2 linked regions of the Homo sapiens genome follow. The protein of the gene in region 2 purifies or fractionates together with the protein of the main gene of each other region. This does not show direct contact. Each region holds a gene or a part of one and is shown on either strand. Other genes may lie near its edges. The genes, in order: STK26 and FAM135B.

What was found.
Region 1: the proteins of FAM135B (region 2) and STK26 purify together in Homo sapiens (affinity purification with mass spectrometry; one large-scale study listed by BioGRID and IntAct). This does not show direct contact.

What each region holds. Positions count from the first base shown.
Region 1 is NC_000023.11:132,068,302-132,072,119, reverse strand, and holds part of STK26 (serine/threonine-protein kinase 26), read right to left. Parts: coding exon 3,797-3,818; intron 3,709-3,796; coding exon 3,551-3,708; intron 2,643-3,550; coding exon 2,457-2,642; intron 1,052-2,456; coding exon 903-1,051; intron 1-902. UniProt on the Homo sapiens protein: Serine/threonine-protein kinase that acts as a mediator of cell growth. Modulates apoptosis. In association with STK24 negatively regulates Golgi reorientation in polarized cell migration upon RHO activation.
Region 2 is NC_000008.11:138,495,151-138,499,068, forward strand, and holds the start of FAM135B (protein FAM135B), read right to left. Parts: upstream 2,112-3,918; 5' UTR 1,521-2,111; intron 1-1,520.

The sequences.
Region 1 (3,818 bases), on a different chromosome or scaffold from region 2:
GCGAATACTACATTTTACTACAGAGTAGTAGTGGAGTGGTTCTCAACTCTGTGTGTGCTTCATTGAGACCTCCTACCATAGATAAATACCTGTCCCTCACTACTCCCCACCTATTGAATCAGGATCTCCAGTGGTGTGGCTTGTGATTGCTTTAAGGTTCCATGAGTGACTCTTATGGGAAGCTAAGGCTAACACCCATTAGAATAGGGCACAAATTATTCTGATATTTTTTATCCCTTTCCAACATTGGACAATTTCTCATAAATGGAAGAATCTCAGAGTAGTATCTAAAGAAATTTGGTGTTGCCTTTGTGCCAGTTCAGCTGGTGGAGGACTAAATTCTGGCATAGCATACAGACTTTCCTAGTCTAAATTAATTGACAGACTTAGAGGCTGAATTTTTAATGTAAACGCTGCTGTTATAAAACCCTACAACTTTTTCAAGAAATAAAAATCATGCATAAATGAATATTTAAATGTATCAGTCTGATCTTGGTTTGGTACATGGCCAAGAGGTGGGAAAAGCCTGGAGGTCAGTTCTTTAGAGGGATTTTGCAGGTTGCCATCAAAGTATGAGAAAACACAGCTCCTTATTACTTTGAGCAAACTAATATAACACCTTTAATTGAATCCTGTTCCAAAATTTTGTAATATACTCAAGTATCCACTAGGGGTTAGACCAAGACCATTTAAAACTAGAGCTATTCACTTCCAAGAAAAACATGTTTCCAACTCCATTGTATTCCACAGACTGTGATTGAAAAAGATTTTTACAGTTTCTAAGGTGAAATTTCAAAATATGGTTTATATTTTATGCTAGAACAAGCACACTGGAGCATAGCTAAAAGATATACAATATTTAAATAGGCTGCCTACATAAAAATTAAATAATTTGTACATACGAATCAGAGCCCTCGGAATCAGATTCATCATCACTGTGTCCTTCTGCCTTCCATCTCTTAAAACGATCTATCAGTTCAGTCAGATAAGAAGTCTTCTTTGAATTTTTTACAATGAATTTGTGTTTCAGAAGTTCTTTTGCTGTAGGACGCTAAGGATAAAAAGATCAAGGCTGCATATGACAATTGTTGAACTCTTATGATTACAAGGAATGGTAAAAAAAATCATTTGAATTATTAAGCTGAAAGGTATAAAGGTATGTCTGTAGACATAAGAACAACTAAAATGCTGTAGGAAAATAGCTAATTCTATTATTGAAGTGGCTCAAGGCAACCACATTGAATCTACTACTTTGGTGTCCCAATTTGTTAAAGCCCAACGGGCAGCAGGTGGCTTACCCACCAGCAAACTGGCAGGCAGGGCCTTCTCAAAAGCAGAGAGACACATGACAGTATTTAGAAAGTAAACATTTAAAAACATTTCAAAGTAGTGTTCTAAAATACTTTAATCACATTTACTGTAAATTTGAAAAAACCTGATGAAAACTTGCAAGGCTGTAATTTTGTTATTATCTACACATATAATCCCTTCTCCATCACAAATCAATGTCTATTGCATCTAAATGCAAACACCAGGTGCTGTGGAGGATGTTCCGCCTTCATTTTATTAACATGAGAATGTTTATCATCAACTTAAAAATAGTTATATCAAGTTTGGACTGCTCTTGTGTATTTCTCGTCTCAAAAAGTCACAAGGCAGCTTTATTTCAACAACAGTAAAACAACTGTAATAGAATCCACCAAGTAAATGAATGGAGCTCACTAGCCTAGGAAAAGTATACAACTTCACATTGAAGTTTCTAAACACCAAATAAAAATAGTTAAACCTGGCCAGGCACAGTGGCTCATGCCTGTAATCCCAGCACTTTGGGAGGCTGAGGAGGGCAGATCACTAGAGGTCAGGAGTTCGAGACAAGCCTTGCCAACATGGTGAAACCCCATCTCTACTAAAAATACAAAAATTAGCCAGGCATGGTGGCGGGTGCCTGTAATCCCAGCTACTTGGGAGGCTGAGGCAGGAGAATCGCTTGAACCTGGAGGTTGCAGTGAGCCAAAATCATGCCACTGCACTCCAACCTGGGCAACAGAGCAAGGCTCCATCTCAAAAAAAAAAAATAGTTAAACCCAAATATAACTTTTCATGAAAAATGAAAACAGTTGAACAAAAATCATTGTATTTATACATACACTTTAATAATGACATAATATAAAGTTAACTTTATTTCTCAAATTTATTTCCCCCTGAAAGAGGAAATAATGAATAGAATAAGGAGGAAGCTGAGGATCAAGAAAAAAACGAAGGGTAAGGAGAAAAAGAATGAAGAATCTGGTTAAGAACTCAATAGAAATAGCAATACAGAAGGACGAACCAGGTTCCTGGATGGATCTTAGACAATTCTCACATACACTGTATTCCCTACTGCAGGAAAAGCTGCCTTTGCTATAAGTAGATCTAATAATAGAAAACAAATAGTAATAATAGCAATATATACTCACAAATGATGGATCTTTGTTCAGGCAAGCATCAATAAACTCCTTAAAAGACTTAGTAAAGTCTCCAACAAGAGTTGGAGGATTGTTTTTGGGAATAAGAAACAGAACTCTCATTGGATGCATATCGGAGTTAGGTGGCTCTCCCTTGGCTAGTTCAATAGCAGTAATTCCCAATGACCAAATGTCAGCCTAACGTAAAAGGAAAAAGAAAATAATATATATATATATATATATATATATATATATATATATATATGTGTATGTATGTATATCACCTTGAAACTCCATTCCAATATACTACCACAAAATAGTCTGTGGAACCTAATGGCTATACAGTACTTGTCTCTCAAGAAAATGTGGTGTTAATAAATTTTTATTAGTAGAATTCATTTATGTAAAACATAATGAATTCCATACTTTGTGCCAGGTACCCTTCTCGGAATGGAGGATTTCAGTAGTGTATAAGCCAGACAAAAATCCCTGCTCTTAAGGGGTTTACATTCTAATAAGAAAGACAATAAATAAATAAATAATATGGTGCCAGACGGTGCTAACTTCTGTGAAGAAAATAACAAAGCATAGTAAGAGAATAATGAATCATGGGGGGAAGGGTGTTGCAAATTTACATAAGATGGCCAGGGAAGACTTCCCTGCGTAGGTGATATTTAAGCAAAGACCTGATTGTGGGAAGAAGGTTTTTTCAGACAGAGGGAAGGGCATGCAAAGGTCCTGAGGCCAGGGTGTACTTGCTATGTTTGAGGAACAACCATGAGGCCACTGTGGATGAATAATCTAGAAGAGAGTGGTAGGAGATAAGACTGGAAAGGCAGATAATGGCCAGATTGTGTAGAGCTTTATATGTCACAGAAAGGACTTAGGATTTTATTCCACGTGGGATGAAAAGCCATTGAAGTGAATAGGGTCCAAATATTAGTTAGCTGTGAGGGAATTTATGATTAAGCAGCAAAATATGACATAACTCTAGCTTAAGAAACACTTGTGAAACAAGGAAAAATAAGGCAGTGTATTAACTAGGATAGTGTGCCATATATAATTTATTAACAAGCCCAAAACAGTTTGTACAGGTAATACTTTACTTTTGAGTCATAAGCTGACTGTTGAATAACTTCAGGAGCCATCCAAAATGGAGTTCCCACAAAGGTATTTCTTTTAATCTGTGTATCTGTCAGCTGACCAGCAACTCCAAAATCAGCAAGTTTAACATCTCCTTGTTCTGAGAGCAAGACATTGGCAGCTAGGAGGAAAAAAAGAAAAGCAAAAAAAAACTCAGCTTGCTCAGAATGCTTCTATTTTTCTCAGGTTCATATTAGACTTTTGTATACCTTTTATGTCTCGGTGAATTTT
Region 2 (3,918 bases):
CATCAGGTTTTAAAAAGCCCTTCCCAAACATCCTCTCCACATCCCATTGGATTGTGATTGAGCCTGGTAAACTGCAAGACTTGTTAGTTAGTATCCCCATTCTCCAGATGAGAGAAAGAAGCCTCAGTGAGGTGGAACAACTCAAGGTCACACAGCAGGTGCATGAGGAAATCAGAGTTCAAATCCATGTTTTCTGACCCTCCAATCTGGTCCACTTTCCTCTACACCTAACCATCTGTCTAAGCTCTGATAACATCATCCATATTATGACATAAATCTCCAGATGAGAGGTTGGCCAAATCACATCCCCTTGGGTAACATAACCACACCATAAATTAAAAGCCCAATTAAAGAACATAGCCTTTTAACTGGGACTTAGACTGTCCCCCGAGGCCACGATATAAAGGAAGAGCCCTTTCAAAGTCAATGGCTGCCTATCCTGGATATTATTCAGAGGCCTACTTACCTACATGCACGAACTTTCAGACCCTAATTATTCACATGCTATCTTCCTTCTTCCGGGGCCCTGGTCCCAGCTGATCTGAGTTTGTAATCACTCCCCAAGCTCTGGCCCTCTCTCCAGCCTGCAGATGTAGTTAACAGTCCATCACACTGTATGGACAGCCCAGGTGCCTCTCGGCTTTGACACATCACTTAACATCAAGAGCATCATAACCTGATGGAAAACAATGCCCCCTGGTTCAAATGGACAACTGAAGCGGTGTCTCCAGCTGTCTGAAAGCGAGATAGTTTGCCAGTGGCCAAGGAGCAAGGATTGTCACTATGAGCGATGTGATTCTTGTTTTGCTGGCAAAGTGGGGTGGGGAGCTAGAAATGAGGTGGGGAGAAGGGGAGGGCATAGTCTTGACTGCTAGCTCAAAATTTTATTTCTATTCCCATCCTATCCCTAATAGTCAACGGCAATAACATGATACTCCTGTGTCCCAAAATAATAACAGTTACTACTTGCCTCGTCTAAACATCCCCTCCAGTGACTGGGCTTGAAGCTGGCTCTACAGATCAAGAGCTGGTCCCTTTCCATGTCACAGCTGAGCTGCAGTGTCCCCGCACACCCCTGTCCCCAGCCAAGCCACAGGAAGAACGGGTCTGTGCATTCGCCTGGATCACAGGGAATCGCTGCCACTGTCCCCTCCACCCCAGTGCGGTCTTCTCCTGAGCCTGGCCCCCGGGTTCCCTGGCTCCAAGGACCCCAATGGCCAAGGTCTGCATGCGCCCCCTCAGCCTCCATCTGGGACTCCTGGGGGGAACCCCTCATTAACCCAGCCTCTCCGCTCCTTTCACAGCCCTGGCCCTTCTTATCCCCTCAAGACCTGTCCAGATGTGCAGCAAACCTGGAGGGCAGAGAGACTGGGGAAAATCGAGGGAGATAAACCACATTTTGCGGCGGAATCGCTGTTCCGTGACAGAAAGCCATCCAACTGGCAACCACGCTTGCAGAAGCGTCACTACCACCGACGAGAGAGTTTTGCAGCTGCCGACCCCGAAGCGCTCTCACCTACCTGTCTCCACTGCAGGGCTCCCCTCTCTCTCCCCCGGGGGCCGCGCTCCTGGGTCCCTCTCTCTCCTCTTTCGCCGTCTCTGGCCGCCAACAGTTGCGGCGGCGGCGGCGGCGGGCGGACTGGGGAGTCCGCAGCACCTGCGAGCTGGTGTTGGGTCCCCGCGGCGAGGCTGCCTGGAGGAGGAGCGAGCGGATGCTGCCCTCGCCCGCCGCCGCCGGTGCTGATGCGGTTGCTATGGTTATGGAACCCCGCAACTGCCCCCCTCTCCGTGCAACAGCTGCCCGGCCGCGGCCTCCGGGCAGCCCCAGCGAGCAGGCGCCAGGACGCGAGGCTGTCAGCGCGGTCGGGGGAACGCAGCCGCCAGCGCCGCAAGAAAGCAAGGACCGACCGGCTGCGCCCGCGCCGCTGGGCTGGCGCCTCCCGGGCTGCGCTCACCTCTGGCGCCCTCACTCCTCTCCTTCCTCCGCCGGGACGCGGCCAGACCCTCCGCGCCGCGCCGCGCGCCCTCGCGGCCGGGAGAGCCCGCCCTGCTGCTCCCGCTGGCTCCGCTCCGCAGCCGCTGCGCACCGCGTGGGTAGACGCTGCGCGACTGGCTGGCGGCGCGGCTCACGCGCTCCCACCTCGGTCCCTCTCCGCCGCGAGGCCCTGATGGGAGCCCGGGGCGGGCCGCCCGGCGGCCAAACCCCGCCCGCTCGGCCGCCCGGGTGCCCAGGGCGCAGGCTGCGGCCCCGCGTGCGGCCCTCCCAGACTGACCGGCGCGAGCATGCTCAGTCCCCGCGGCGGGGCTCCCCTCTCGAGCCAAGACCCCAGGCCTCGGGCAGGAAAAGGGTCCCTGCAGATATCCGGGGGCGGGGCGCGGCGGAGAACTGGCTGGGAGGGGACTGTTGAACTTGGAAGAGAAGCCCAGGCAACAAGTAGATGCCTGAGAAAGGGTAAAAGCGCTGAGCAACCCATACCTCCAATGCGAAGTCAGCAGTGGCCTTCAACCAGCCAGCCGGCCCGTCATCCGATGGGCTCCTCACTTCATGCTGAACGTGGGGGTTCACAGACGTGTGAGATTCTGTCCACGGAGGAGGGAGAGGAAGATTGGGGAGGGTTAAGCCAGCTCCCGTCTACTGAGCATTCTTAAGGGGCATTGGGAACTCTAATTATCACCACCACTGTGCTGGCAAGTTCTCGTGGCATGCCTGTGACAGATGACAAAACAGCCTTAGAGAAGGAGCCAAGACTGGGACTCGGAAGCCCAGTGACCCGTCCACTAGACTCGGCTGCACTAACTCCACCCAGGAGGAGGCAGGGAATGGAACCAGGCATTAGAGGATGACTATGTCCCCCATTAGACTGGGCTGCACTAACTCACACCCCAGGAGGAAGCAGGGAATGGAACCAGGCAATTGCAGTTGGCAGGAGGAGTCTCTAACCCTGTCAGGCTGGGGGCAGGGGCAAGTAATTGGGGAAAGATACCTGAAAAAAAGGTATAAGAACAAATGAGTGGGGCGGTGAAGGGTAGAGAAGACTGCTCTTTCCAGGACAAGAGGAGCAGGGTACAGAGGCCTGGAGGCAGGACAGAACAGCAGGAACCTAGCAGCAGCAGGCAAGGAGAGGTGAGGCAGGCGAGTGGTGAGGTTTACAGGGCAGGCACTGCACACCAAAGGCCTTGCGATCCAAGTGAAGGGGTTGGAATTTGACAATGTGACCCTTAGGATGGGAAGGGAATGGGGAAGGTGGTGGGGAGGAGGGCAGTGAAGCAGTTTAAGCAGGAGAAAGGCTGGGTGGGAATGAAGGGAAGATCACCTTAGTTGAAGTGTGTGTGGTGCTGGCTAGGGTGGGGATTAAGGCTGCAGAAAGAGGTGTCCTAAGGAGGCTGTTGACATAGTGGGCCTGGGCAGATGGAGGCTCTGAGCTATCTACCCTGCTTGTCCTCCCCACAGCACCCAGCAAGCCCAGGGCAATGCATACCCTCAGTAAATGTTTGGTGAATGGCAAATAAATATGAATTTCTCAATAGAGAAAATGGGTGCTTTTCTTTTACAATATTTGTCTCTTAAATGTGTTCATAACCATATGGCATTTATTTTGCTATTGACATTGCATTTTTATGCAACCTTATTTTTGAAAGTCAGTGCAAGCACTCATTATTTTCCTCTGCATTTTCTAGTCCCCAGCAGTAGAGATATGCCAGGAGCATAGGATTTACTTGTATTGGATGTATTGTCTGGATAAAACAGCTCCATGATTTATTAAGTGAAAAAGCAAAGTGCAGAATAGATAAAATAAGATAATATTAAAATAAGACAACTGTTGTGAAACAAGGAGACAGATACACATATTTGTATTGCTTGCATTGGCATAAAAATACGCTAGAAGGCTATGTAAGAAACTTGGAGAAGTAGCTATT